Regions from separate parts of the Homo sapiens genome. Here all the other regions are linked to region 1. Evidence: fine-mapped expression QTL. A gene starts in region 1. Each other region holds a variant in brackets. All regions are shown on one strand. Distances are from middle to middle.

Region 1 (5,076 bases):
GTACCAACCCACTGGCCGGCAATTCTCAATCAGTGCGGTAGGGCTCCATTACCCAGCACTGTGAGTGGAAACTAAGGAGTCTAGAAAAACCTTAGATCAGCTAAGAGCAGAGAAATCAGAGGCAGAACTTAAATATGACATTTCCTTCTGAGTCCATAGTGCATCCCTTATTCACTGGTTGGAGAAAGCTGGCAAAAGCGCTCAGCTGGAGGCAGGCGTTTTCTGTGCGTTGAGGCGCCGGAGGAGCCATTCCCTTCGGGAAAGACAAGGTCGGGGTGGGGGCAGTCGCTCCGGAGTGCACGATCCGGTGGCTTTATTTGCTGGCCTGGCGGGTCTAGGCTGGAAAATGCACACTCAGCAGGGAAAGGGGAAGAGAGATTGGCGGCAGTTTTCTAAAAACAACACAGCTCAAGTCTCCCTCGTGTGCCCCCTCGCTCACCCCGCCGAGGCTCAGAGCTATCCAAACGGGCGCTCCGGAGCGAGCGCGGAGGTCGGGTCCCCCCAGGACGCAGGCGGGCCTCCGAGACTCCAGGCCGCCCCGGCCGCCGCTCCCTCCCGGTTCCCCTTCCCTGTCAACCTGCCAGGTCCTGAGAGGCGCCTCTCCCTCCGAGCCTGGACCGAGGTCGCTCCGGGTCACCCTAAATCTGATGATGCCGCTCGCCCGGCGCAGCCGGGGGCTGGGACTGGCGGGGCTGCACCTGGGGAGGCGGCGACCGCGCGCGGGTAGTAGCCGAGAGCCCAGGCTGCCTCTGCGGCGCTCACTCCCCCGGGGTCTGCGCTGGGCGCGGTCGGCGCCCCCGCCTCGCCTCCCGCCTGCCCGCCTGCCCGGGCGCAGGGCTGCCCATGGCTTCGACAGTGCTCCTTCCGCTCAACTTAGGCATTTAACTCCCAGCCCTTCGGTGCCCACTTCCCACCCCGCGCCTCCCAGGGGTCCGACAGCTGAGAAGAAGGAGGAAACTGGCAGAGGAAAGAGGCGCTCGGGGGGGCCGAGTTTCCAACTTGGCGACTGGGAATCCCGAGGCGCGTGGGGAGGAGAAGACAGGCTTGACCCGGGGCAAGAGAGTGGCGAGTGCGGGCTCCGTGGGTGCACCTCCCACTGGCCCGGGAACGGCCTGCACCCCGAGGGGCGCACGTCACTGCTCCCAGCCCGAGTCGCGAGCGCGCAGTCCTGGCCTGGGGCCCGCGCGCCTTGGGCTTTCTCCCTGCCCGCCCCTTTTTCTTCCGCCAAAACCTTTGACCAGAGTCTCCTTGCCAGCATTCCTACCTCCCTTTGGCCAGCTATTTGTGCCAGGTAGGAATCAGGCTGTACTTTGGCTGTGTGTGTAGACGCCAATCCCCAGGAGGCGTGTGACCTTTTCACCTTACCCACAAACTCCCTGGGAGGTGCCCCGTGGGCACTGACCCTTCTCCGGGGCCTGATCGGTGACCGCAACCTGTTTCTTCCCAGAAATGTCCTTGCTTTTCGCATCTACAAACGCTTCCTGCAGCACTTCTCGGAAAACCCTCGGGGACGGGCCTGGGGGGCATCCAGCGGGCTGGGGGCACGAGCCGCTGTGGGAAGTGGGGGTGGCAGGAGCTCCAGGGCCGGCGTGCACGTTGTCTGTGGCCGGGAGCGGACACTGAGAGGGCGCAGCGAAGAGCACCCCTCCCCCGCCACTCTTTCCCTCCCTCGGGATGCACAGAGAAACGGGGGCCGCCCGACCCCTGATTTCCACACCCCTCCCTAGCACCTGGGCTCCCAGACAAGGTTGGGCGGGGTCGGGCGGCGATTGCCCCCCTGCTTGGAAGGCGCAGCACCTCCCACCCTCCGGTGTTCCCTCTGCCCCAGAGGAACGGGCACCAAATCTCGGGAAACAATGAAGCCTCCGCGGCGCGCAGAGGGCACCCAGCCGCGCGCCCTGATGCGGGCCAGGGAGGCCGCGTGGGGCTGCAGCCCGGCCTCGCCCGCCCAGGCGGTCTGTCTTCGCTTCACACCACAGCGACACTGCTGCCCCTCGCCCGGCTTCGCGGTGCGGCTCCCACTCCAGCCCGGCTTTCCCCTCCTCGCCCTCCAGCTCTGGGCAGGGGCGTCCAGGGGTGCCCCGCTGCTCCCCGCCACAGGTCTCAGGATGGCGCGATGAGGAGTGGCAGGGGGTGACCCTGCGTTCCTCGCCGCCGAGGGCGCGGGCCCCGGGATTTGAAGTTGCGAGAAGCAGCCGCCACCTCCCGGGCGCTCCGCACTGCGCGGCGGCGGGATCTGCGCCTGCAGGAGCTGCCCAGCTCTCCCTCTAGGGGTGCAGAGCGAGCACGCGAGGTGGGCTGGCCAGACCCTGCGGCTGGCACTGACCTCCGCGCCCCTTCCTCCGACGCCCGCACCCACGCGACCGGGGCGCAGACTCCCAGCGCCTTCCTTCCCGCGGAGATCCCTGCAGGGTCTCTGGGAAAGACAGACAGACGGACGGGGAGAGCACTCGGAGGGAAAGTTGTTCCTCCCAGTCTCCTGTCAGGCAATTACAGGCGAGCCCAAGCGGGGAGAGGGGCGGGAGGAAGCGAGGGAAGGGCTCCGGAGTGGGGGGAGGCCGCAGGAGGGGAGGCGGGGGTGCAGTTGGTGAAACTCCTCTGTCTCCCGCTCATCTTTTCATTGCTCGTTCCCCTCCTTCCCGCAGACACCCGGACCTCCCCTGGGCGCCAGCTCCGCGGCTCCAACGGGTCCAGAAACAAGCCGGATTTTTTTTTTTTCTTCCTGGAAATTGGCTTTGGTGTGTGTTGCCCTACCTCCCTCCTCCCCCTCCCACCCACAGCCCCCCCCCGGCCTTTTTTTTTTTTTTTTTTTTTTTTGAGACATGGCCCGGGCAGTGGCTCCTGGAAGAGGAACAAGTGTGGGAAAAGGGAGAGGAAGCCGGAGCTAAATGACAGGATGCAGGCGACTTGAGACACAAAAAGAGAAGCGTTCCTCTCGGATCCAGGCATTGCCTCGCTGCTTTCTTTTCTCCAAGACGGGCTGAGGATTGTACAGCTCTAGGCGGAGTTGGGGCTCTTCGGATCGCTTAGATTCTCCTCTTTGCTGCATTTCCCCCCACGTCCTCGTTCTCCCGCGTCTGCCTGCGGACCCGGAGAAGGGAGAATGGAGAGGGGGCTGCCGCTCCTCTGCGCCGTGCTCGCCCTCGTCCTCGCCCCGGCCGGCGCTTTTCGCAACGGTAAGTGACAGGCAGAGGCGCGGGTGACAGCGGCGCCCCGGCTCCCAGCTGCCCGCCCCGGACCGGGGCTCAGGCGGGGCTTCCCGGGATCAGCCGGGAACAACCGACTCCCGGGCGAAGGAAACTTTTATCTGGGAGGAGAGAAGAAGAAATGAGATCAGGCGGTTTAGAGCAGGAGGATTTCAGGTCTTTGGGCTCCCTCCTGACGTTGATCCTTGGGCTGTGGGGCTTTTCCTTACCTCTGTTACAAGACAGAGCTGTCTACCTTCCCAGATCAGCATGCCAATTATCTTAATAATGTTTCCTCCCAAAGGCAATTAGAAGAGACTCCCTTTCAAAAATCTGATGGCTGTTGAAAGTTAATGAACACTTTACCAGGAGATCTTACTTCCTGGTTCCTTTGCTGCTCCCCTAAGCCGTTTCCTCTGGTGGGTGACGGCCAGAGATATCGGTTTGTGGGTTGATGAAACTCCCTCCCCCGCCTTTGTACACCTTCCGTAATCTGTCTGGAGTATGACTGAAAGTTACATAGTATCAATACAGGAATCTGACATATACAGTGTAAGGCACCAGGATATCTGAAAATCCCTAAGCTAGTTGCAGCTTCCACTTAGCTTTTAAAATCACTCACTGTTAAGTAAATGAAAAACTATACTGGGGTCTAAACAGTACCATGTAACCTAAATAATGTGTTTTAAAATGGGATCTGGTTGTAGGCATGTTTGACTTCACACTGTAAAGTAAGTGCAGGCAAGGGTATGCAATTATCTTTACAGTAAGTCGTCAGCAATTGTTATTAACTAATGATCAAATATTTACTTTTGTCTGGCTTAGATTTCAATCACAGTAATTAGAAGAAAAGAACATCCACTACTTACTGTGGTATATTGTTTTAATAAGAGACCGCAAGTGGAGGGCCTCATACCAACAGGAATTTAAATCACATCTTTATGATGGAAGTTAATCTCTCTAATATGCTTTTTCAAGGTTTTGTGATTTTAGCAATGGATTTCCCTCAGCAGCTACCAAGCAGTATTTTAAGAGATGCTTAAAGCAAAACACATGCAAAAAAAAAAATTATGAACATGGAATTCAGCTTATTAATGAGCCCAAGTTGATGGCATTTTTCTATAATCTGGCAGGAAAGCAAGACACAAAAAATTATGAATGTAGAATTCAATTTATTAATGAACCTGAGCTGGTAGCATCTTTCTATACTCTGGCAGGGAATGAAATAGCATTCTCGTCCAACTGAAAGAGCTCAAATGGTTGGACTAGAAATTATAGTAACCCTGTCCTCCACAACTCTTGAGACTAAATCCATAGTGGGGGTGTTCACAAGATAGATTTGAAGCTCAATGCAAAGAGCTATCAGACTTTAGGTTGTGAACTACACAAATATATATGCAGTACACACACACACACACACACTTCTTAGTTTTCTTAGCAGAAATCTGGGGAATGCTGAAAATCTGGCTTTAGTTGTTGAGCTTTACCAGCAAAAGCCATGTCGCTATGCTTGAAGTGACCAGAGCCAGAAAATGCCTCTGTAACTCAGCAGACCTCTCAAAGCCATGTCCACCTCCTCTGAGTAACCAGTGTCTGCTAAATTAATTCATTAACCTTATTTAGGACTAATGGTCCAGAGTCATTAGAAACTGCTCTTTCTTAATCAACTGCTAGAGAGATTGAACAGAGCCAGGGAGTCTAGCAGTCCACATTATCTTATTACACTGTCACTTTCTCAGAAGTCACAGATTAAAGAGCTCTGGTGTGGTACCAAGTCCACCTAAATGTCTTCTGAAGTGACTCTGTCGAGTGACTAGAACCAGTGCTGTTTTATTTCACTCCTGTAACAGATGCCAGACACTACCATGATGTTTGTCCAGAGCTAGAGGAA
Region 2 (5,076 bases), 590 kb before region 1:
TAGTGGTTGAAAAAAAGAATAATATTTCATGATGTGTGAGAATTATATAAAATTCAAATTTCTGTTGTCTGTAAGTAAAGTTTTGTTGGCATACATCACATTCCTTTATTTTAATGTCTATGCCTGCATTTTTGCTACAACAGCAGAGTTGAACAGGTGAGGCAGAAACCACGTGGCCCACAAAGGCTAAAGTTTTTACTATCTGGTCTTTACAGATAAAATTTACTTCTGCTTTAGATGATTGAGAAAGGGATGAACTACATATCGTTCAGCCTTGTTTTTCTCAACTGACCTTCGCTTGCTACTGAGAGGCAATGAGTTAAAAGCCACAGTCCCAGAGCAGTGTTTAGAATATGCATGTGCTATTTTTCCTCTCTTGAGGTAGACACATATTTTTAGAGTCAACTGAGCTGTGTGCGAGACACCCCTCCTCTTCTGAAAAATTGCAAAACTTAATGGGAGCATGCTATATATTTATGATATAAAACCACAGCCATGAACACACAGATATATGGGAAAAGAAACAGACTGTTGAAGCAGCAGGATCCTCAGTTACTGAGTTTTCATCTGATCATTTGCTATTTGTTCTTCTATTTTGTCATCTGCCAGTGGTATTCTAACAGACACGTGGGAGCAAACACCGAGGTTGTAAGAAAAATATATGTTGGAAAACCAGCTTGACGGTCATTAACTCAATATTCTTCCCAGGACTTGTTTGTGTCTGATATCCTTGGATTTTATTTGCAGGATATTTTGACACGGCTTATAGAGCACTATTGTTTTACGGGAACAGTTTGAGAATGACAAGTTTAAAACAGAAGTGGACTCTAACTCCTTTATTGCAAGACAGGGTTCTGAAATTTTACAGGGACAGGAGAATCTACTCAATTACTAACCAACAACTTTATAATCTTATCACGATAATGAATTTTACACAATCTAGTTGCCTGCCGATGTCTGTTCCTAACAGTATAAAATGTAAACAGCACTAGCAAGCCTGTTTTGGGTTCATTAAAGTAAGCATGTACCAGTCACCTGAGCAATATGGACTGGTGTGATAATAAAATTCTTAGGAAGCTCTCTTTTTAATACAGTAGATTAGAAAACTTGGGTAGGGTATTTTCTCCCTAATAATGCTTCAAAGGTATAGAGAAAGCTGTCCTGGATTCAACTGTCAATCTATGCTTAGAAATGTCACCAATAATTTGTAGCCTGGAAGTGCCTGACTTATGGACCCCTGGTGCTAATTGGATCCACTGATTTCTGTAAAATCCCCACCTGTCATCAGCTCAGTAATAGGTATGGTACTGAAACTCTAATGAACCCAGGACTAACTTTAAATAGCCACTGATTTTTTAAAATGTTGTTACCAGGCCACAAGTTTGGATTTTTAGGGAGGGAACTTTATTCTTTTATAGCCTCTATATAATCTTATAATCTTTGATTAGGATCTAAGCTGTTTAAGAAGGAGGTCAAGTTTTATCCTGGAGGACACCCTATTCTTGTAGAAAAGGTTGTTGGAATTTCAAAACTCCATCAGGTAGAGCTTGCTTAGAAACTGCAGAGAAAATGAATCTTGAATTCTTGTTAGCTAGGAACTGACTTGCTTCACAGCAGCAATAGAAAAATTCATTTCAGGAATGAGGAATCCGTTTTCAGGAGTCCAATGAAATGGATTGATCTGAGTGGGTGACCTGAAACTGCATTGCTGCCTGCATAGTTTAACTTTGGTCGCTATTTTCTTTGGTGCTGCAGTTTTGGAGCAGAAAACTTGCAAATCTGTTTTACATTACAGTGGGAGGTCTTCTCCTCTAAAAGAAGTGACTCTCCTGGGTGACAGGGTAGTGTCCTCTGGGAGAAACAGGAATACATTTGGAGGGGCTCCAGTAAGCATCATTGTTCTTTGATTCCTACCAGTGTCCTACCTCTTCTTAGCAGGACACTCCCAGGAGCTGTTTGCCATGGAGGGGACCAGGCTGCTCCAACTGCAGTCTGTCACCCCCTCCAGCTGGACTGGAGAGGCCTATGGAAGCAGCTGGGGTCTTGGTTGGAATATTCTCCTCATGCTAACTAGGTCAGAACCATTTCTGTTACATTCTTCTGTTTAGCTTGATGGATGGAATATAAAATGCTCCCCTTCCCAACACGTACCACTTTACCCACCTGAAAATCCCATGAGGACCTCCATGTTATGAAATGTGCTTACTGAGAAGTGGCTTTTGCTTTTATGGCGATGAAAACCTTGGGTGTCCACGAGGAAAACACACTGTATCCCACTATACCGTTTGCCAAAACTAGCAATTTATGATGCTATTCCCCTAAACCAATGTCCAACTAATATCAACTTGAGTAATTTCACCGATGTGATTCCTGTTCTTGGAGCCCTTGGGCCATAGCTGCTGTGGCTTCCACCCA[T/C]GCACCAAAATAGATTAGCAAGGAAGGACGTGTTAAGTCATGCGGCCCAGCCCAGTCATCTGACCCTGGGGAGTGTTCCCTCTGGAATGGCTTTCTGATGCCCCAACTCGTCGGATTGGAATAATGCCAGCACAGGACTGTGGCTTCTTCCCGTGGGAGTTGGTAATATAGTCTCTTCCTGGTTTCAGCATTTTTTAACCCCCATTTCTTGATTTATTCAATCCTTCCTGGGAATGGCCAAGCCAGCCGTCTGCTTATGGAACCCTTACTTCTCCTTTCCATATTTTCCAAGATTATCCATTAGCTAGATGTGGGGCATCTTATATCTATCTGAAGTCATCCTTTTGGTAAACTCTGCTTAGGATTCCTTTGTGAAGTGGGTTGTCCTTCATCTTCCTTATTTTGTTGCTACATATTCATAAATTCTCTTTACTTTTTCTCTACCTCTTCATTCTTTTTAATTTTTAGTTTATTATGAGTACACAGTAGGTGCATATATTTATGGGGTACATGAGATATTTTGATACAGGCACACAATGTGTAATAATCACATCAGGGTAAACGGGCTATCCATCACCTCAAGCGTTTATCATTTATCTGTGTTACAAATATTCCAGTTATACTCTTTTACTTGTTTTAAAGTGTACAATAAACTATTGTTGGCTGCAGTCACCCTGTTGTGTTATAAAATGCTGGATATTATTCATTCTCTTAACTATATTTTAGTACCCATTAACCATCTCCACTCCCCCCGTACCCCTTACCTTTCTCAGACTCTGGTAACCATCATTCTACTCTCTACCTCCATGAGTTCAATTGTTTCAATGTTTAGGTTTTGTGAATGAGTGAGAACATGGAAGTTAGTGCTTCTGTGCATTTAGCCTTTTCATTTTTCATGCTATGGGTATGTCAACATGAGAGAGAAAGGGAAATGGGAAGAAAGAGGAGGTGCAGACTCTGGGGGTCCCTCACCAGGGCACTAGCAGCAAATGTTTGGTCTCAGGGCTGACTTGGAGTCAGAGGATGCCAAAATGGAAAAGCGACTGCCTGGAGATGTTGGTTTTCCAAGACCTGAGATAGGAACTATGAAACCAAAAAGCAGGCACTGGAAATCCTGCTACCTGCCATTTTTTTGGATCCCACTGCTGGCCTGAATTTTTAGCTTGAACCAGTTTCCTTTCAGACAACTCATCTTTTTTCTCTATTCTCACCATGGCTACATTTCTCTCCTATAACCACAGACCATCAGATTAAGGCTGGAGGGTACCCCAGAGACCATCTCCTGCTACCTTCTAAAATTAGATGGGAAAAATCTGGTCCCGAGGGGTGATGACTTCTTCAAGGTCACACAGCAAGCTGGTGGAGAAGCTGAGACTAGACACCCATCTACTGAATTCCAGGCCAAAGCTGTCTTCTCTAATGGATAGCTGGTTCAATCTGTGGAATTCAGCAAAAGGTAACTTCTGCTGAAGCAGCTGCCTCCAAGTGTGCTCCAAGAGTAATGGTGTGCATCAATTTGTCAGAGAAAAATGGCAACGGATAGAATTCACAGCACTGAGAGAAGAAATGTCAGATAAACCTTCAATTAGCCTTACTCTTCTGTAGGAAAACTGAAATTAACATAGCACATAACACCAAATTATGATTTGACTTGGAAGCTACAGTCATCTACATCTTCTGGGTTTTCTCCCTTCATAAATTCAGGTGTTTTTCTTTTTTTTTTTTTAAATAATAGAGTGTAAAATTTTGAGACAGGTTTTCTAGGCATTATTTAATCATTCAAAGTTTTTTAAAATCTATAATCCCTGAACCAGGCAATAAATAATTGGTAATTATAATTTGGAATTTGCAATAAAGTATTTTAAGCAGATCCTATGGCAGGCAGCAATGGGTATGACTAGTAATAAGGTGATAGCCTCTGGTTGTAAATTCCTGTGCCTCTGTTACTGTTTACAATCTGTCCTTCGGCTGTCCTGTGGTATATTGCTAACTCATTATTTTTTTCATTGACATGTGCACGTGAGAATACAGTGTTAAAAAAATTTGGTGTTCCGGGCTGGGTGCAGTGTTTCATGCCTGTAATCCCAGCACCCTGGGATGCCAAGGCCGGCGGATCACCTGAGGTCGGGAATTCAAGGCCAGCCTGGGCAACATGGTGAAACCCCATCTCTACTAAAAAATACAAAAATTAGCTGGGTGTGGTGGTGGTACCTGTAATCCCCGCTACTCAGGAGGCTGAGGCAGGAGAATTGCTTGAACCCAGGAGGTGGAGGCTGCACTGAGCTGAGATTGCACCACTGTACTCCAGCCTGGGTGACAGAGCAAGACTCCATCTAAAAAAATTTAGTGTTCCGTACATGGAGACTCCTCTCAACCATAAATGAGCTTTTCTCATGATTAATGATGTAATTTACCAATTATTAACCCTAAACTGCTATCCAGTAATGTCAGTGAGTCCAAATAAAGGTGGGTAAAGGTACTTATCTTCTATTTTGGTCCTTAGCACTTGATGCTAATAACTGAATCTATTTCTCATGTCGTAAAATGTAAAAAAAAAGAATGGAAAGTAACTAAAATGTCCCCAAAGATCTATATGGCTTTATATTCTAGCTTTACTTGCTGCAACATTAAAATACAACTTCTAAAGTGGTTGTAAGTTTG
Region 3 (5,076 bases), 540 kb before region 1:
GATTTCCATAAAACCACTATTTCAATTTCTACCAGCCCTCGTCAAATTCAACAGACTTTAGTAACTTCTACAGACATGACTATTGTGTATTTCAGCCATATTCCAAGTTTGAAACAAGCTCTTCCTTGGCCTCTTCGAATCCCATGTGCAACTAACTTTGCTGCAGAAATTTCTTGACACATTTAAATTTGGGCTTCAAAGAAAATTTTTTTAAAAAGGGAAGATTTGGTGCGAGAAAACCATGCATTTAATAGTCCACTTTTATGGGTGGAATAGGGCTAAGTTCTCTTTAAAAAAAAAAAGGGGTAAGCACTTGGGCACTTCAAACCTCATCAACCACATTTGATCCTAGATATTATCTAGGCTTATCTTGAATGGGAAAATGCTAAGAGCTCAAGTGCTGTAAGACTCAGAGAGCATTTTCACTCATCAGGAGGCTGATTAAGCTTATTATTTGCTGTCCAAAAAGCTTCAGGTGCTTATTGACCTGAACTAAACTTGAAAACAGTAAAGGGAGAAAAGGAATGTGCTCCTAATTGAAAGCCCCAAGAAAACCGGGTCACCAAAGCTGAGGTGGACACGTCTCCTTAGTACAAATCGGGAAGCTGTGTTTTTCGGCCAAGATTCTACAGCTTGGGAAGGATCATTTCCCATCTTCCCGTGAGACCAGCGATACCCAACACATTTACAGAAGCTCCGTCATGTTTTCACACCTGGTCCCGTGTCCATATTTCCTTGCATCCAAACAAGAAGTGAGTTTTCGACATATCTTTTCACTCAAATATTTGAACTCTCCAGAGAACCATTCAGCAGTCTAGTTCTAGAGTTGCTGAGTTTCGAAGCTCAGGTTTCTTCAGTACCCATGGAGGATCCTTAAACATGCCAAGAAAAACAGCACAGCAGCTGCATCTTTGGGAGTGAGGTGCAAGCTTCCAAATATTATTTTAAAATCACCACTTATGGAAAGATAGAGAACTGTATGCCATCTTAGTATTTTTCAGTAGGGCTAGTTGGTTAAATACCATCCTCACCCCGTCACTTTTTTGCTCTATTGGCCATGGTTTTCCCTAATTTAATAAACCTCTCACATTTTCTTTTCCATAAACTACTTTAATTTTCCTACAGAAGTGACTGTAGGAAAATTAAATCCTGTATTTACCAAAAGAATCTTGACGAAATGATTACTTAAAAGTCACTTCTATGATAAGATACTCTGTTATTTTTCTTACTTTATTTAAAGCTGGAGAATGATGGTGGGTATTATAATTCACTCAGTGTTGTGATTGGACAGAGAGGCTGCTTTAGTTTAACAAAGGTCTCAGACCACTCTCATGGGGAATGTTGATAATACAGAAAGTTATGCATATGGAGTTGGGGAGTATGTGGGAAATCTTTATAGCTCTGTACAATTTTGCTGTGAACCTAAAGCTGCTAAAAAATTCTTTATAAAAAATGTAAAATTAATTTAAAAAAATAGGACATGTCCTGAATGGTCTGAGGCTGGTGTAAATTATCATTGTTCAGTCTTGCTAATATCTATTCCTGGGAAAGTAAAAGTGGGAAAAATAATGGATGGTGGAGGGATATTTAAAGAATAGGTATACCTTCATTTATTCTATGAAGTATCTGATAAATCAAAATGTATTTTCTTTATTTTATTCCAAAGGGCAAGTTTTCTTATCTCTTCCATGAATTCAGCATCATTCAACCCATGAGAAGGTAGGAGATGACATGTGGAATTTGAGCAGCCAAGATAAACAATCGTCTATTAAACCAAAACATTGTATGCCACTGGCACGACTCCTCAACTTGCTGGGAGGTTTGCTAAGGGATGGTGGGAATGGAGAGTTAAATCCACCAAGGATTTCTCACTTGAGATTTTCCCAATGTTTCTTTTCTATCCACCAATTACAATGCAGGAGTTTTCAGCCCAGGACAGCATCTTCACCTAAATTATTCCCTTATTTAATAGTACTCACAGGCCGCGTGATTCGCTGTGTACTCTTCCTAGCTTGGTCTTGCAGTTTTGGCTCTTGGTAGGAAGGAAGTTGCCAAACAATTGCCCTGTTGCATGTATCACTTCCAAACTCTTCACTCTTGCTGTTGTGGGGTTGTGTCTTTGTATTTTTTCCACATTTGTTCTCTGCTCTTTCTCAATAGAGCTGGAATCTCCTTTGTAAAACCAGAGGTTTCCATTGCATGGCAGTCTTTTTTAGGGCATTTATATCTCCATAGAATATACTTACAAAAATTAACTGGAGAATCCCAAAGTCAAGGGAAACTTCCGGAAGAGCAGAGATTTCAGTTGCAACCAGAATCTCAATTATCTCTGCACGATGATTACACAGTACTCAGAAAGGCGAGAAGAGACAGGAACGGAAACTCAAGCTTGCTTCACAAATTTGAGTCCTTGTATCTAAAGGCCCGAGGGAAGATGGCCAATAATTCACATTCTAGGCAAACAAAGCCTCTTGCCTCATTCCATTGCACAACTCCAAGTTAAGAAGGGGAGAAAGGTCATCTTTACTTCTCTCCATGTGCACCATCCAGAGCAGAT[G/A]TGAGGTCTCTGCTGATCGCCAGTCAGCCTTGCTGCCAACTTTTCTACAACCCCAGGTCAAAGAACACAATGGAGCCTCACCCCTCTCTTTATGATATACTAATTTTCCCTTCACTACCTGCTTGTGGAATTGTTGGAAACATCCTGGGATGCAATCGTTTGGTCTTATTTCCCTTGTTATTTCACCCCCACACAAAATCCTTTTCTCTGAGGAGCTCAGGACCCCATGCCACAATTAAAGGACTTAATCTGACGCTCAATTATGCCTTGCTGGGTCAGTGATCTGTGAGCCGAATTAATGAGACCTGCTGATGACCCGACAAGGAGAAAGCCAACCAGGGGCAATTGGAAACAGAGAGAAGTGAAGGAAATGCGGGAATTCTAAGATGGGTTTGTGAGAGACTGACTCGCAGGGAACCAAGGGTCTCTGGGAGGTCAAGGTCAGTCAGGAGGCCTATTAAAAAGTTACAGGGGGAGAGAAACCCAGAAAGTTTCAGCAAAGCCACTATCAGGGTGTCACTGAGAGGGAGGAGAAAGGATTTTCTACTGCTGAACTATTCAGAGCCGGGCTGAGATATACAGAACATACCCAGGCTCCGACTCTTCACCAATGCTTCCTTGTTTGAATTTTCTTTTTTCTTTTTTCTTTTTTTTTGATATGGAGTCTCACTGTGTCTCCAAGGCTGGAATGCTGTGGCACGATCTCAGCTCACTGCAACCTCTGCCTCCTGGGTTCAAGTGATTCTCCTGCCTCAGCCTCCAGAGTAGCTGAGACTACAGGTGCGTGCCACCAGGCCCGGCTAATTTTTTGTATTTTTAGTAGAGACAGGATTTTGCCATGTTGGCCAGGCTGGTCTCAAACTCCTGACCTCAGGTAATCTGCCCGTCTCGGACTCCCAAAGTGCTGGGATTACAGGCTTGAGCCACCGCGCCTGGCCCCTTGTTTGAACTTTTTAGATTCATAGTGAACAGACAAGCTCAATGATGATTATGATAGTCATATCAGCTGATACTGTTATTGTGTGTTAATAACAACAATAGTAAAATATTTAACATTATTATGACGGCATATAGTAAAATACTTAACATTATTTAATTAACATAATTAAAATATTTAGCAATATGAACATTATTATTATATTAAATAGTAAAATATTTAACATAATTAAACACTGTGGTGCACTGAACATAGACCATCGGCCTTGCACCATACCAATTGCTTCAAAGCTGATGGTAAATGATTTCAAAAAGTTGAAGATCAAAGGATAAGAGAGGACACACGGTAAACGAGAAGTTTCAGAAGATGCAAGACAGGGGGGACTAGACATTGGAAATCTATGTGCCTTCAGGAAGAAATGACGATGAAAAGGCCTTTTAGTATTTCACAGACTCTGGACCCAGGGTAGGCTCAAGAACTGGCCAAAAAGCTATCTCTAAAGGCTGGAAATTCCATTTATGGATTGGTTAGAACCCCTCTTCCCCTTCCTCCCACTCAGTACTATTTTATTTTTTAAATTATGTACAAATATTGATTTGATAGAAACAGACTGTCTAGCACTATACTATGCATTAGGCATTCTTTTAATAACTTTACATAAATTATTGCTTTTAATTCTCACATAATTATTGTATGAGGTATGTGCCTTATTTTCCTCACTGAAGAAATGCTGATTGTTTGAGATGATGGATATGCTAATTACCCTGATCTGATCACTATGCATATATGCATCAAAATATCACTATGTATCTCATAAAGATGTATGATTTTTATGTGTGAATTAAAAAAATAAAGTATAAAAAAGAATGGAGAAGAAGAAAAAAGTTATAAGGCAGATAACTTATAAAACCTCAGACACTGACAAGTTAAAAAACTTGCTCAAGATTACATATCTAATAGGTATCATTAAAGCTAGGGATACAAAGCTAGGAAGTTGACTCCAGAGACTATGTTGTTAATAAATACAGTTTGCTACTTCACATGTCATGTTTATGCAATGGTTAGATGGCTTGAAATTATATGCTTTAGTATATCAGTATTTCATAAAAGCATTTTTCTCATAGATGCAATAAAAGTATTTAATAACAAAAGTTAAAGAACTTAGGAACAGAACTGATGGGAATATAGTTTGTTGTTGTTGTTGTTGTTTGTTCATTTTGTTTGTTTTGAGAGACAGAGTCTCGCACTTGTTGCCCAGACTGGAATGCAATGGCCAGATCTTGGCTCACTGCAACCTCCGCCTCCCGGGTTCAAGCGATTCTCCTGCCTCAGCCTCCCAGCAGCTGGCATTACGGATGCCTGCCATCACGCCCAGCTAATTTTTGTATTTTTAGTAGAGACAGAGTTTTTCTATGTTGGCCAGGCTGGTCTCAAACTCCTGACCTCAGGAGATCTGCCCGCCTCAGCCTCCCAAAGTGCTAGGATTACAGGCATGAGCCACTGTGCCCAGCCGGGAATACAGTTTCAAAGGGGCTAGATATAAGTCAAGTCAAAAATATAGATCACTGCAAATTGGCCCAAT
Region 4 (5,076 bases), 76 kb before region 1:
TCTGGTCAATGCAATTACTCAGTAACATGCTAACAGCTTTTCTCCTTGGCCTCCTTATCAGTATTACTGCCAAGTTAACCCTCCTCTTACCATCCAGAATATGTCAGAAACTTTTCCACTTCTAAAGCTTACTCTATACCCTCTCAGCTGTGGAATCTGAATCACAACTAAAATGTTCATGATTCATTGGCAGGGTTTTGACATAGAAAGTTCCCATGACGGATGCGCCAGTGTGGGCAGCCACTGACTTCTCCCTTGAACCTCGTCCTAATGATGAATCAGCTTTCAGCTGCCTTGTGATGGGCGCTCTTCCTTCTCGTTGATCCTTCACTGAGCTGCTCTTCCCTCCATCAGCCAGTTTCTCCCTCTGAAACCTTAGAGGAATTAACTGATTAATTCAACTCACACCAGAGACTTCAACTTCTGAAATCAAATGTTTTCCCATCCTTGTTAGTTCTCCTTTTTCCTTCAAGCAGTACTTACCCTCCTGGAGTCTCTGGTACATCTTTTTCCTGGCATTTACTGGCTTATCCTGATAATAGCAGCAACGCCCATTCTGTTGGTGTCTGCACTCTTTCATGACATTCTTTACAAGCCCCAACCTCTCTGTGACTCTCCTGCAACCTTCTCTTACTCAACCCACCATGACTGTCTGCACTTGTTGTAGGAGCTGTCCCTCTCTTTTCCTCTTCCTTGCAGAGAGTGGCCATCCAGGTTCAGCCCAAGCACCTCTCAGATGTGCAGAAACTTGTGCAGAAGTATAAAACCTCAATATCATATCTGGACTTTGGAGGGAATGATATTTCTCATCCATCCAGAACCATTCACTTCTAAAATAGGCAGAGAAACTAAAAAGTAGTAAATATGAGTGACAAAAATATTCAGGACAAAATAAAAATAAAATCCCGTAAATACTACTTTAGAATGGGGGAGCAGAGTAGCAGTGAGCTGAGAACCATCTTTCTTCAGGAGAATGGGCAGGCCAGTGCTCTAACCACCTTCCTGCCTTCACCCTCACAGATGCTGGAATCTTCTGGCCATGTACTAAGGAAATTCCCCTAGTTTCTTTCCTGACAAATTTTTGCATTGCCAGTTATTTTTTTTTTCTTTTTTCTTTTTTTTTTTTTTTTTTTTTTGAGGCGGAGTTTCTCCCTTATCGCCCAGGCTAGAGTGCAATGGCGCCATCTCCGCTCACTGAAACCTCTGCCTCCTGAGTTTAAGCAGTTCTCCTGCCTTAGCCTCCCAAGTAGCTGGGATTACAGGCACCCTCCACCACGTCCAGCTAATTTTTGTATTTTTAGTAGACACGGGGTTTCACCATGTTGGCCAGGCTGCTCTCGAACTCCTGACCTCAGATGATCTGCCTGCCTCCGCCTCCCAAGCATTGCCAGTTCTTTAAGTGAAGGTGAATATGAGTGTCTGCCTCCATCACTATTCACAATAACAAAGACATGGAATCAAACCAAATGCCCATCAATGATAGACCAGATAAAGAAAATGTAGTACATATACACCATGGAAACTATGCAGCCATAAAAAGAAATGAGATCATGTCCTTTGCAGAGACATGGAAGAAGCTGGAAGCCATTATCCTCAGCACACTAATGCAGGAACAGAAAACCAAACACCGCATGTTCTCACTTATAAATGGGAGCTGAGCAATGTGAACACATGAAGGGGAATAACACACACTGGGACCTGTCAGGGGAGGGTGGGGGGAGGGAGAGTATTAAGAGAAATAGCTAACGCGTGAGGGGCTTAATACCTAGGTGATGGGTTGACAGGTGCAGCAAACCACCATGGCACACATTTACCTATGTCACAAACCTGCACATCCTACACATGTACCCTGGAACTTTAAAAAAAAGAGTATCTACCTCCTCAGGGCATTAGAGGACACCCCAGAGACATGAGGAGAAGGCAGCATGGCAACCAAGAGACTGGCTCTCTGCCTCTCCTCCCACCAACAGCTGCCTGTGTTCCATCTCAGAACAGTCATCTCATGGATGTTACCCAAAACTCAGTAAATCAAAAACTAAGTATGTCAAATGAACCCGAAAGCCAGCTTGCTTT[C/T]GAGCCATCATTCCCTTCTCTGCTCACGGTACCACCGTTCTCCAGTTGGGATTACTCTCTCTTCCTTATCCTTGATATTCAGTTATTCAGTTCACGTCTGTTGTTTTGATTCCCCTTCCCCTTTGATCACTTCATCTCTTGCCACCCTAGATCAAGGTCTTATTAACCGACTCTTAAATCACCACGCCGATCTTGCCAGTGCGAATCTCTGTACCTAGCGTTTCCTCACTCCTGCCTTTATTGCTTAGGTCATCAGATTAACCCTCCCTAAATTCTGCTCTTACACATCCTGTCTTGCTCAAGGACACATCACAGCTCCATTTTATTCATTCTGCCAAAAGCAAACTACTTCTTTTTTTTTTTTTTAGAGTCAGGATTTCACTCCATCACCCAGATTGGAGTACAGTGGTGCAATCATGGCTCACTGAAGCCTCCAACTCCTTGGCTTAAATGATCCTCTCGCATCAGCCTCCTGAGTAGCTGGGACTACAGGTGTGCAACACCAAGCTTGGATAATTTAAAAGAATTTTTGGTAGAGACAGGGTGTCACTGTGTTGCACAGGCTGGTCTTGAACTCCTGAGCTCAAGCAAAATTCTGGCCTTGGCCTCCCCAAGTGCTGGGATTACAGGGATGAGTCACCACGCCTGGCTGCAGATGAATCTTCCTGAATGCCAAGGTGTATAGTTTTATTTCCATCAGTCTTTGCGTTTTCTCTTTCAAGGCTACTTTCTCAGAGGTATACAAGTGTGTGATTGTTCTGATTCCTTTGCTCTTTTAAGTATTATGCAACGTTCTTTTTTTGTTTCTATTAATGCTTCTGCTTAAATTCTAATTTGTCTGATAATATTACCAAACGAAGTTTCTTTTGGTGAATATATTCATGGTTTATCTTTTTACTTCTCTTCATCCTTAATCTTTCTGTGTAGCTTTAGGTGGTCTCTTAAGCAACATATACCTAGATTTGTATTCTATTATCAAATCTATCCAATCTAATAATCTCTCTTTCTCTCTCAATAGATAAGTTGAATTAGCTACATTTATTAAGATCAACCACATATTTGGACTAATTTTTACCATCCTTTTTGACTTTTTTTACACCTTTGCCTTTTCTTCTGATGAAATATTTCCACATTTCTGTTTGTATGTTTTTCTTTCTCTGTGGCTTTGATAATTGTAGGTTGTGCTTGTAGTCTTTTAGTGACAACGCTGAATTTTTTTTAAAAAAAATACATATTTTATCTTTCAATACTTATATCCTCCTCTTGACCATGACAAACGTGTCAGTCAGTATGGTTTAAAAACCCACTGAAGAATGACCCCTTCTTCTTATTTTACAGTTCTTGTTTAAATTCTGTTTTGTACTTTTTAAAGTCACTTTATGGTAAAAAAAAAAAAAAAAAAAAAAAAAATTACTATCCTTTAATCAAATTCCATTTTATAATTGCTTTTATCTTATTCATTGCATTTATTCTTCCCCAGAGTGCATTATTTGTTTTACTACGGTTCTTAGTTTTTATGTGTTTTTAAATGTCTTTATTTTGATTTTACTCTTGAATTATACTTTGGCTGGTTTTAAAAAAATCACATTACTATCCTTCAGCTTTTTGGTTAGCAGCCATTCTGTTCTGGATAATCTATCTTTTCTGTGTTCTGGGATTTTGAATGTACTCTTTATCTTTGATATCTGCAGGTTTACTATGAAGTGAATAGATATGGATTTGTTTTTATCTCTTTTTATAGGCACACAGAATCCACATTCCATCTAGGTACAGTATTGATGTCACTCCTTTTTCCTGCCCATTCCTCCTCTCTCTTCTCCTAGAGCTCTCATTAGATATATGTTGGTGCTCTTTAACTATCTCCCATGTCTCTTAACTGCTCTTTTGCATATAGATAGATAGATAGATAGATAGATAGATAGATAGATGATAGATAGATAGATAGATGATAGATAGATAGATAGATAGATAGATAGATAGATAGATAGATAGACAGAGAGAGAAAGACAGGTTCTTGCTCTGTTGTCCCAGCTAGAGTGCAGCGGTGTAATCATAGCTCACTGCACCCTTGAACACTTGGGCTCAAGTGACCCTTCTATGTCAGCCTCCTGAGTAGGTAGAACTAAGGCACACCACCATGCCCAGCTAATTTTTATATTTTCTGTCTCACTATGTTGCCCAGGCTTGTCTCTAGTTCCCAGCCTCAAGCAGTCCTCCTGCCTCAGCCTCCCAAGTTGCAGACATGAACCACCACATATATTTTTAATCTCTCTCTCATCTCCTGTCTCTATCTTCATCTTTCTATCTCTCACTGCTTGCCGAGCATTTTCTTAGTGATAGCTTCACATTCTCTGATATGCTCTCCCACAGGATTGAGTCTAGAGTTTATCCTGTATTTTGAATATTTCATTTTTATTTCAATTACTATATTTCTCAATTTCAAAATTTTGCACTTGTTTTTTTTCTCATATCTATCCACTCTAGTTTTGTTTCTACCTTCTTTTGCTTCATTGTTGCTGTTCACAGCTGTATTCTTTCATTTATCTCTTTTCAGCATCCTCAGTGTAGGTCTCTGTCCGGACTTCATTCATGTGATGTCTTGTCCTGATGGTTTATTTTGTTGGCTGCCTCTCTTAGCAGTAGGTTTCTCCATGTGTTTTGGAATTTTGTTTTGCTGGTTCTTCTTGTTTGATGGATTTTTTTCTCTCTTTTCTGTCCTTTTGCTTTTGTGAGTCTTTTAAGGATCAGCCTAACTCCCTCCTTCTGTTCTCTCAATGCTCCAGCCCACACTTGCTCAATCTTCCTCTCCTCGATATCCTCACCCTTCCTGGTGCAATAATTTTCCAGCTGCCTCTTCGGGGCACCTGGGTTCCAAGTTTGGAAACAGACCTTCTCATGGTCATTTGGAGCTCTGGTACTTTGGGGAAAGGGGGCTATCACAGATGGAGTGATGACACTGGTGGATGGATGGTCAGTTCCTACTCTTCACACTGTGCTTCTACT
Region 5 (5,076 bases), 330 kb before region 1:
CAGAGGTTGCAGTGAGCCGAGATCAAGCCATTGACCCAACCTAGGTGACAAGAGTGACACTTTGTCTCAAAAAAAAAAAAAAAAAAAAGAAAAAAGAAAGCACCAATGGAAGCAACAGCCCAGGAGAACAAAAGCAGCCTGGCCCCTGGATCCTCTCAGTGGGGGGACTTACAATTTAGTAACAAAGCAGGGTGAGGCCTTAGCACTAAATACCACTGATCATCACCCAAGCCCTGGGCGATCCCAGGCTGATAAAGCCTGAGAAACCAGGAGTTAGATATGTCTAAATCCAAACATAAATATAAACGTGATTAGACTTAAACTACGCATTATGGCAGATCTCACCACCTGTTATTCTTGATCCCCTCTGAATCATGCAAGCCCAGAGGGGCAGGGAGAAACAAAACTCCCTTGTCCCTAAGCAGAACTCTGCTTTTCACCGTCCGCTTGAACTTTAAAGTGGGCTTAATAGTTTATGACTTAATCCACCTATAGCTCTGAGTACTGATGAACAGCTGAGCTGATATTTGATTCCCAACGGGAAGGTGCTGGAGATGAGAATGTCAAGTGCAAATCAACTGGTTGGGTGTAAAATCTGCTTATACTAACATATGGAGTTTTATCTCTAAAATTATTTTTCTCTTTGGCATTGTGAGCCAAAGCACTATGAATGCTGAAATGATCTGAAATGGTGATGCCTCTGAGCCTCAGCAGGAACACTCAAGCACAAGCTTTCCACATCTTACCCATGCTCTCTGGCCCTTCCTGTGGGCAGTGTCTGAATCTCAAACTTTGAATCGATCCTATTGCTGATTATGTCAAGATGTCCAGTCATTTAACAATTGTCCCATGGACTTAGGAATGAAATTCAACATGGAAGTCAGTAACTTTTAGTTTTCCAAAGTTGCTGGATTTTTAACCTTCCTCAGCACCCCGACTGAAAAGAAACTTAAAAATGGTGACAACCAGAAGGAAAACAAGTGCACTCATTTTACCTCCGAGACTCACTGAAGAGTTGTTAAGGTCAATAGATATATTTTTATTTTTTAGAGATAGGGTGTTGCTCTGTCACCCAGGCTGGAGTGCAGTGGTGCAATCATGGCTCACTGCAACCTTGAGCTCCTGGGCTCAAGTGATCCTCCCACTTCAGCCTCTTCAGTAGCTGAGACTACAGGCACAGGTCACCATACCTGGCTAATTAAAAAAAAAAAATTAATAGAGGTAGGGTCTTGCTATGTTGTCCAGGCTGTTCTTGAACTCCTGGCCTCAAGCAATCCTCCTGCCTTGGCCTCCCAAAGTTTTTGGGAGGAATTTCAGGCATAAGCTACCATGCCCAGCCAATAGATATATTTTGGATGGAACATCATTTTTAGCCAAAATAATCTGTGAATGTTTTGTAGTAGACTTCTCTTCTTTATCCTTCTCCATCTTTTCCCTAAAGATTGTTGGCCTTAATTTTTTGGTTTTATCATTTTGTTCATGATAAGGTGGAAATTTTGCACTAGAAATTATCATATGTTCAGTTAAAAGCATCTCTTCATCTGATTCTGGAAAAGTCTTAACATAATTGTGAAGAAAATATCTTGGCTCAAAGACATTTCTGCAAGACTCCTCAGAAATTCTGCAAGCTAGTGATTAAGGCAGCTTCATTACAAATATCAAAGTAGACATGGGTCACTGAATCAGATGTGGCAAGAAACACATCACCATGGTGAGTTCAATATGGTAAATGCTTAGGGGATTCACGTGGCACTGCACGTGTGTCCACATCTAACCAGAAACCAGATTTTGCCCTGTGTGATGCTATACAGAAATCTTTAAAGCCAGTGTCTTCAGCCAAAATGCTTTTATTGTCAAAGGAACACATGGAAAAACCAGATGAAAGAACAAGACTCAAGGCCTGGCCCCCATCCTGTGAGGTGCTGGAGGGTTTGCTAACCTGAGAGAAAAATCATTCAATTGGGGCATAAAATAGTGTGTTTATCTGTCAGTGTGGCCATGTTTTTATTGAGGAAATAAATAATCCAGAGAAATGTGTATTGTTTATCGTCCTGTCTGACGGAGAGGTTGCTTCTAAGTCACACCTTTTCCTTATTGTCAAGCACTCAGCCTCAACAGGCTTCCCCAAGAAGGTGGCCCAGTTCTGAAGCCCAGGCTCTTAACTCATTCATTCATTCATTCATTGGTCATTGATTGATAACCAGTGATGTGCCAAGACATTCATTAAAATCTGATTGTATAATCAGAAGACAAAACACAGTTCTTCCTCATGATCTAGTGGAAGATGTAGACACAGAAACAGAGAATTATCTGTTTGGATTATATGAAATTTGTCAGAAATGGTCAACATAGGCAATTTTATATGGTGCACATTTTATAATACAATTTGTTAAGCTCATTGATAGAGATATGGATGAAAATTTTTGTCTTCATTGTTGTTTGTTAGTTTCCATTTATTGTATGAACAGGAGGCTTAAGCTGGGGAGCGTGGACTGGGGAGCAGGGAGGAAGCTGACTGTGAAGGCTTGCTGGAGGACACCTGATCATAAAAGATGAAGGAGATGTGAAGCTGGGTGTGTGGCATGTGTCTGTAATTCCAGTTACTCTGGAGTCTGAGGCTGGAGAGTCGCTTGAGCCCAGGAGTTCAAGTCCAGCCTGGGCAACATAGCAAGTTGACTTCCCTTCTTTATCCTTCTCAAAAAAAAAAAAAAAAAACGATGAAGATGTGGACTGCAAGTGTGGAGATGTTAAAGCCAGTGTCGATGAAGCATGAAGAATCTTCTGGAATAGACTGCCTTTAGAAACTTATCTGGAAGAAGCCCTTGATTGTTTAATCAGTGAACTTGCTCAGAAAGAGAACATGAGAACAGAAGTGCCAATGTCGAAGGTGCTGATATAGATACCTGCAAGTATCTAATCAACCCCTTGATTCCTTTGCTCTTACTGGCAAAGACAGAAGTATCCCACACCCTCTCTTTTCCAACTTCCCATCT[T/C]AGTCCCTGGAGGTGATTCACTGACCTGTAGCTCCCATAAGAGACGGAAAGACCTTAAATGCCTCACTGACTGTCATCTTGTGCGAAGACCGCTACTGCTTCCTGAGAGTGGGGTCATCCAGTGGTTTGAACTCTTGCTTTGGGAATAGTTCTTATGCTAATAGCTGGATTTGAAGCCCTGCTCTTTTGATTCAAGGTTGATAACTTTAGGCCCATGAGGACTAATCTTGGCTGGGTTTACTGTTGTCCTCACCCTTGCAAAGTCTTTATGTTTCATTTCCTGACTTTCAAAACCTCCACACCTAAAGCAGCTGGCTCCTCCCACACATTAAGCAGGCCCCATCCTCTGGTTCTGCTTTCTTTACTGAGTGAGCACTCTCAAGTCTTGGAAAAAAGCCATTTTGAAGATCTAACACAAGAGCACAGGGGACCAAAGTATATTGAGTTAGACTCCAATAAACCCTTGCAGCAATTCAAAGTTCTCTTCAAGTTCATTGAAAGTGTGTTATCACATCACTGTCTGGGAATCAGGATCACGGTTCAGGTTGCCAATGGTTTCACTTTCCACACTGTGGGTTACCACTATTATAGGAGACAAGAGCAAGCTTTCAGCCTAAGAATTCATTAGCACTGGAAAGCTCGTGGTTCCTGAAGATATAAGTTTGTCTCTATGCACATATTTCTGGGCATGCATTGCCACTGAATGATGAGAAAGGATGTAGGACAGTTAAGGGGAATTGCATCCTTCAGAAATCCTCTCGAAGGCCCCCTGCATTACAAAGAGATTGGACATTATTGGACTTAATATCTCCTAACATTACATCCAGGCCTATAGTCCTGTGACTTGAAAATGACCTGAAAAAGCGTTTTTATTTTTTCCTCCTCAAATGTGAAATAGGGTCTTTTGTTACCAGACATCACTAAGGTCATGTGATAAATGGGTGCTATTACTATATGTTCCATGAAGCGTGTGCTGCTTTTCTGGGGACATTTTAACTCATGTACTATCCCAAGCTTTTAATCATTCTAGGAAAGTCCTTCAACCCATCAACCACTGCAACAGACTGTCTTTGTAGAAGGTGGCCCAGGGCTTTGGACAATGATGTGCTTTGAGACAGAGCTGGAGATGTTATTTAGGGCCACCCTACTTGTGTTTTTTTCTGCTGCCCAGGAATAATCACTCTGGGTTGGGGAGGGAGGAACACATTTTAATGCCTCATTCTTACTTGTTTAGTAAAGTCAACCAGGAACTTGTTTTCTGTGATCACAAGATGCATCCCAAATTACTCTAAAACCGATATTGATTTTTCTACAAATAATAAGGCCAGTTGTAGAAGAACCATAAAACTTGAAGTTGTTGCTTCACTGAGTGTTACCATGTAATGTCAGTAGCTTTGGTTTTTATTTAATTTTGTGATTAAAATTTTTATTGATTTCCCTGCAGGGTAGAATATATCAATACCTTTGGTTTCAAAGGAGCATTCAGTAACAAGGAAACATAAAAGAACTCAACTACGGGAAACTGGTGCTTTATTTTAAAATTTAAGAAACTGCCACCTTGCATCCCTAAGGTGTATCTCTGGAACTAGTTTTGGATGGGACCACTTAAGCTTGTGGTGGTGTTAATCTCTCAGGGAAGCAGCTGGCTCATGGGCCTATGAAGTTGAGTTGAGAAATGCTTAGCTAGTCATTATTAGAAATAATATTGTTCTGCCAGATGTTAATACATCACCAGGTGACTCACAGCCCATGTTACCATAGATCACATGTGCTTCTTTCTCTTCACCAGAAAAGGGCTACTCTTACAATGTCAGTTTTTGGAAGCCCTGCACTGTGGGTGATTTTTGTGTATAGGAGAGATTATTGTTTTCAAAGGTATTCAGAAACACAGTCCATATTGAGACTGAATCTCTGACTCAGGATGGACCCCCCACCCACCCCCAAATGATTCTAGAGTGTTTACAAAACTATACAGAAAATAGGTTTCTGGTAAAATTAGAAAAGGCCACGTACTCCCACAAAGTCACCCAGTGTTGTTTTGTTTTGTTTTGTGTTTTTGAGATGGAGTTTCACTCTTGTTGCC
Region 6 (5,076 bases), 100 kb after region 1:
AGGTGTAGCAGCTCATACACGGGCCACCAGTCTTCTCTGGGGTATAAGTCCTGGGTCAAACACTGGTAAGTTATGTGACTCTGAGAAAGGTACATATCACTTTGTTCCTCTGTTTCTTTGTCCATAAAATGTCCCTTGTATGATTGTTGTGAGAATTGAAAGAGACACTGTACATAAATTTAACCCTTCATAAAATGCCTAACACGTAGAGGTTGCACTATGAATTTCCGGTTATTAATGGTAATTTTAGCCTTAGCCATCAGCATTTTTTCTAGGTAATACCACCATAGGGACACAACACAGAAAGAGATAGGGAGCTATGTCACTAACTCTAAAGCGACTGCATTCAGATTCATAACAGTAAGAAGTCCAGGATCCTAAGTTAATGAGCACAATGGTCAGGTACTGTGAGTTAAGCCCACAGAGCCTAGAATAGCATTGATGTTCACAGGCCCAGGCTCTGTAAAAAACATGTGTTTTATCTAAGGAAATGAGACAATTGCTTAAAAATATTTTCTTTAGCTTGTAGTGTCAAGTGATGAATTAAACAGCTCTTTGAGTCATCAGAGATGCCCCAAAGAAAATCCGACAGTCTCCCCCTCAAAAAATATTTTCCTGTTTTTAATCAGACCTCAGCTCTTTGTCCTCTATTTTTTCAGGCCATTGTATTGACCTGCCTTGGGAGTGTTAAAAGCTGGTAAACGCTCCCTTGCCAATGCTAGCTCAATGGGCAGTAATTTATTGAGTAAGACAGATTTTCATTTTAGAAATGAGGCTTTCCACGTTATGACATTACCAATATTGGTTGGTTATGTATTATTATAGAAAGCAGTGATATTCATTTCATGGCTGGAAGGCTGCGTGCTGGTGTTTAACCAGCAGTTTGCAAAGATTTGCTACATGATTTACTACACATGCTGCTTTGTCCTCAAGTGATTCCTGGTAAAATGTGTGCTTCTCCTTGCTTCTCTTTGTCTGGGGAATGTGTTTCCTGTCATTACTAAGACAATACCATGGCCATATGGTGCATGTGGATGGTTCCTGTAGATATCTTACAACAAAGAGTAAGTTGGGAGCATGGTAGAACCCAGTGCCGTGGGGAGGTGGGAGTTCGCCACCCAGGAACTGCAAACATCGCCCCTTCACCCCTAGAAGTGGTGAGGAAAACTGTTTTCCTCTACTCACACAATTTTCCCCACCCAGAAGGAAAGGCTTGGGGTTTCCTCTTCTGTATCTGCTAACAAGATCTTCTCATTGTGAGTGGAGCACAGTGTGAAAGTAAGTTGTGGGTAGACTTTCCACCACCAGTGTTAGAATTTCATATCCATATTGGAAACAGGGTATTGTGTTGGGTCACATTTCTAATCATTATAGTGCCAACGGCGCTATGTATTATAACTTAGAAAGTGGTCACCAGCTGGGCACGGTGGCTCATGCCTGTAATCCCAGCATTTTGGGAGGCCAAGGCGGGCAGATCACTTGAGGTCAGGAGTTCAAGACCAGCCTGGCCAACATGGTGAAACCCCATCTCTACTAAAAAAAAAATACAAAAATTAGCTGGGCGTGAGAGCGGGGGCCTACAATCCCAACTACTCTGAAGGCTGAGGCAGGAGAATTGCTTGAACCTGGGAGGTGGAGGTTGCAGTTAGCTGAGATCTCGCCATTGCACTCTAGCCAGGGGACAGACTGAGACTCTGTCTCAAAAAAAAAAAAAAAAAAAAAAAGGAAAAGAAAAAGAAAGCGGCCACTAGAACTCAAAAGGAGTTTGATAAAGTTCTGTAAAATAGCCTACATGCCATCGATAAATACCAGATGTTTATGTTTGTCACACACACAGAGGGAAATGTTCAACAATTTCAGTGAATGCATTTGATGTTCCATTCCATCCCTGC[C/G]CACCGCCATCATCACACCCCCTCACCATCACCCTTAATGTTAAACAGAAGTATATCCAACTCAGATGTGAAATCACATCCATCTTCTAATTAAAAATAAAGCAGCTGTGAAATAATGATATTCTTTCAAAATAAGAAAATGGTGATTAGAGCAGAGCTGATTGGGTTGAGGGAAAGCAGGTTACTTAATTATGGTTATTGTGTGTCTGAATTTTTATGGAAAGAAAGGAAGTATTGTTTAGGACGATGAACCCTCCAAAACATAGAGGGGTGGCATTGTGTAGAAGTACTCTGGGTTGTGTCTTTGTCTTTTCAGCTGCTTGTCTTGGGTCACCAGTCTTGCCTATTAGCATGTGACGTTGATGAGAACTTAGCATGATTCAAAAAGCTAAGCCACCAAGACGATGGGTAGTGTTTGATTTGGAGTGGGTTTTATGACTACTGATCATTTCAACTTCAAAACAACCAGAGCTCATATTCTTTAGAGAGCAATACATTTTTTTTGACAAGTAATGTCAATAGTGGTGAGGGAAACATAATAGGTTGTTTAGTGTCCATGATTTCATTCATTTATTTTTTCCTGCTTATCTCTGCAATTCCTGCTCCTCCTCGTCCCTGGAACAGTCTTTTCCTTTGTGTCCACTCACAAGCTCCTACTGTTTATCCCCCATAGCCATCTTGAGCATAGAAATCAGCTCCCCTCACCTCCAGTTCTCTGTTAAATTGTTTACCTTTTCCTTGATGCTGCATGATACCTGTCTGTACGGTAGTCATGGGTTCGCGTTTTGCACACTCTTACTGCTCTTTATATCCTAACAACTTAATATAGAACTTAGCAGATAAGCAGTATTAAATGCCCGCTGATAATGTTAATCCAGTTGAGTAAGATCCAATACCTAAATATTCACAGCCACTAAAAATTATGATGTAGAAAAAATAGTGGCACTAGAACGTCTATAAAACTCCATTATAAAGCCAGTTATCAGGCATAGAGGTAATATGACCTTATTTTTCAAAGTAAAAACATGCATACAAATATTCACAGGTACTTTGCATGGGAAAAGAAACTCTGCAAGGCTATGATTGGTAATTATTTCCTAATGATGGTCTTAGGGAGACTTAATTTTCTTCTATCATCTTTACTGCATTTTATGAATTTTCAGTAGGCATTTATTAGTTTTTCTGCAGGGAAAAACAGATGCTTTTCAAAGGAAATCCACACAACAATCTAGAAGGAGGTACAGCAAAAACAGAATGATGAATTCAGTGATGGGGACATGAGCTATAAAGGGGTTTAGCCTACTAGGCCAAAAAGAGGAAAAAGTCATTTCCAGTCAAAAAACAGACAGAGGTTGTTTTAGGGCAAAGGAACTTTGTATGTCAAGACATGCAGCTAGAAAAGGCTTATATTCTGTTACAAGCAACGAATATTATAATATGGCTGGGTGATACAGTTGGAAAGAGAGAGGTGTAGCAGGAGGCTAAAAAGGTAGATTGAAGCCAATGTCATGACTAGCAGAGACATCTACACCAGTGAGAAAGGCTTGTAAGGGAAGGAGAAAACTTTTCATCTACTCTTTAAGGTGTTGCAACTGGGGCCTGCAAATTAAACTGACAAAAGACAGATTAACAGGAAAAAAGGCATTAATATTTTAAATTTTACATGCACAGAAGCCTTACAGAAAAGAAATGAAAAACCAAAGAAATAGATTCAGATGCTTATACACCATTTTCACAATGGGTGATAAGTTGTGGATAAGTGACTTGAGAAAAGAAAGAGGGTTTGGGCTTCTAGGGCGGATAAGTTGTAGGAAAGTGACTAGGAGATACATACACACACACACACACACACACACACACACACACACACACATATATGAGAAACTAATGGAAAATAGGAGTTATTTTAGTAAGATGTGTTTATGCAAATTTTATCTCAGTCTCCACTGATAAATGTTGCTGTCTTCATCGTGGTAGAGTAGAGGGGGAGAATTTATGCCCCCTTCCCAAAAGGAAATGTATCTCCTGCTTTTAGGCAGAGAAGGGGAGGGCATAGAATTCTTCTTGCATCTGTTGATTCTCGATTGCCTTCAACTCGAAATAATCTTCATGCCAAAGTGGCAAATTTTGGGGGTGGTGTCTTCCAGAACTCTTCAGATATGAACACCAAGGCATGAAGTCTTTCTAGGTCTCCTGACACAGACACCAGCAGTGTGAGCAGTGATGCTTATTGAGCAGGACTTTATCTGTCTCCCCTCAAACTCTCTCAGGCACTTGAGAGTGGAGGGCAGATCCTTGTTGAGAATTCCCCTAAGGCATTAAGAGAAAGGACTCGTGGAAAGAACTTCCCTGGTCTTAGCAGTGAGGGTTGCACACTAAGTGCTGGAGAGGCTGTATGTTGTTAGAGTTCTGGGTACTATCCGGTTTTAGTTGCAGTGGTTCAAGCCCCAGTCCTAATCACTTTGTGAGGTTGTCATCCATCCTTACTAAACCCACTGGCAATAATCTTAGGGAGAAAAATGAAATGAAATTTCAAGTATCCCTGTGTGGTAAATAAGAGAATCTGCAGAGTTTTAAAGCACAGCAGGAAACTATGCAATTACAAGAGGAGGTTGCCAATGCATTTCATTGCTGTTGAGAAAAAAAAAATCTTTCTTTTTTAATGAGTGATTCATGCATATGCTTTGGGTGCCTTTGTATCTTCCTGTGTTGGATACTAGTTAATTCCAGTCAATTGCTCCTTCCTCTGATGTCAGCTGTTCCTAATACCTAGGAATCTTCTGTTTGATCACCAGTTAACTTCTTTCCTACTTAGTAATTAAATCTTACTCCAAAAACCAAAATTTAAAAAATAGAAAAAGGACAACCAGGGAATGAAGTTCTAGGGTTGTTTCAAATCAGCCCAAGCTGAATACACACTCTTGGGAATTTAATCATTTCCAAACTAAAGAGCCATCTGTAAGTTTGACAGGAAGAGTTTATTTAAATAGCTCTGCTTCATGCTTCCTCGGACTTCAAGATTTTAAGGACCCTTCAGCTTGAAAGTAGCTGTGGCATTGGGCATGACTTTAATGGACAGTCAGAAAAGCACTAAGTGATCTGCGAGCATTTGAAAACAGTTAACATTGTTCAGAGCAACCATTTTTAGAGTCCCCATTAACTTTTAGATTGCGGCATTGTGAAA

Direction of the effects. Positions count from the first base shown, and alleles are read on the strand shown. Sizes are in standard deviations (SD) of each study's normalised expression. Not every link is listed here.
For the expression in monocytes of the gene that starts at base 2,819 in region 1, allele A in region 3 goes with a higher level than allele G (moderate effect, 0.55 SD a copy in Fairfax 2014).

Evidence for each region. PIP is the estimated chance that this variant, and not a neighbour inherited with it, causes the effect. A credible set is the group of variants that fine-mapping cannot tell apart.
Region 2: its variant is the best candidate, but not a certain one, in a credible set for the expression of NRP1 in nasal epithelium (TOPMed, PIP 0.70).
Region 3: its variant is the best candidate, but not a certain one, in a credible set for the expression of NRP1 in monocytes (Fairfax 2014, PIP 0.86).
Region 4: its variant is the best candidate, but not a certain one, in a credible set for the expression of NRP1 in whole blood (TOPMed, PIP 0.73).
Region 5: its variant is the best candidate, but not a certain one, in a credible set for the expression of NRP1 in whole blood (INTERVAL, PIP 0.88).
Region 6: its variant is the best candidate, but not a certain one, in a credible set for the expression of NRP1 in lung (TOPMed, PIP 0.84).

Annotation. Positions count from the first base shown.
Region 1 is chr10:33,332,410-33,337,485 of GRCh38, reverse strand. It overlaps NRP1 (neuropilin 1), which reads left to right and starts at 2,819. Exons shown (of 17, transcript NM_003873.7): 1 at 2,819-3,176. The coding sequence starts at 3,104.
Region 2 is chr10:33,924,928-33,930,003 of GRCh38, reverse strand. No RefSeq gene overlaps it. Among named protein-coding and RNA genes, the nearest start is that of LINC02629, 23 kb to the right of the region's middle. The variant T/C (reference allele first, on the strand shown) is at 2,416.
Region 3 is chr10:33,874,171-33,879,246 of GRCh38, reverse strand. No RefSeq gene overlaps it. Among named protein-coding and RNA genes, the nearest start is that of LINC02629, 27 kb to the left of the region's middle. RefSeq lists an enhancer at 942-2,141. The variant G/A (reference allele first, on the strand shown) is at 2,558.
Region 4 is chr10:33,407,931-33,413,006 of GRCh38, reverse strand. No RefSeq gene overlaps it. Among named protein-coding and RNA genes, the nearest start is that of NRP1, 76 kb to the right of the region's middle. The variant C/T (reference allele first, on the strand shown) is at 2,074.
Region 5 is chr10:33,665,336-33,670,411 of GRCh38, reverse strand. No RefSeq gene overlaps it. Among named protein-coding and RNA genes, the nearest start is that of LINC02628, 67 kb to the right of the region's middle. The variant T/C (reference allele first, on the strand shown) is at 2,994.
Region 6 is chr10:33,229,287-33,234,362 of GRCh38, reverse strand. All of the region lies in intron 6 of NRP1 (neuropilin 1), which reads left to right. Among named protein-coding and RNA genes, the nearest start is that of NRP1, 100 kb to the left of the region's middle. The variant C/G (reference allele first, on the strand shown) is at 1,893.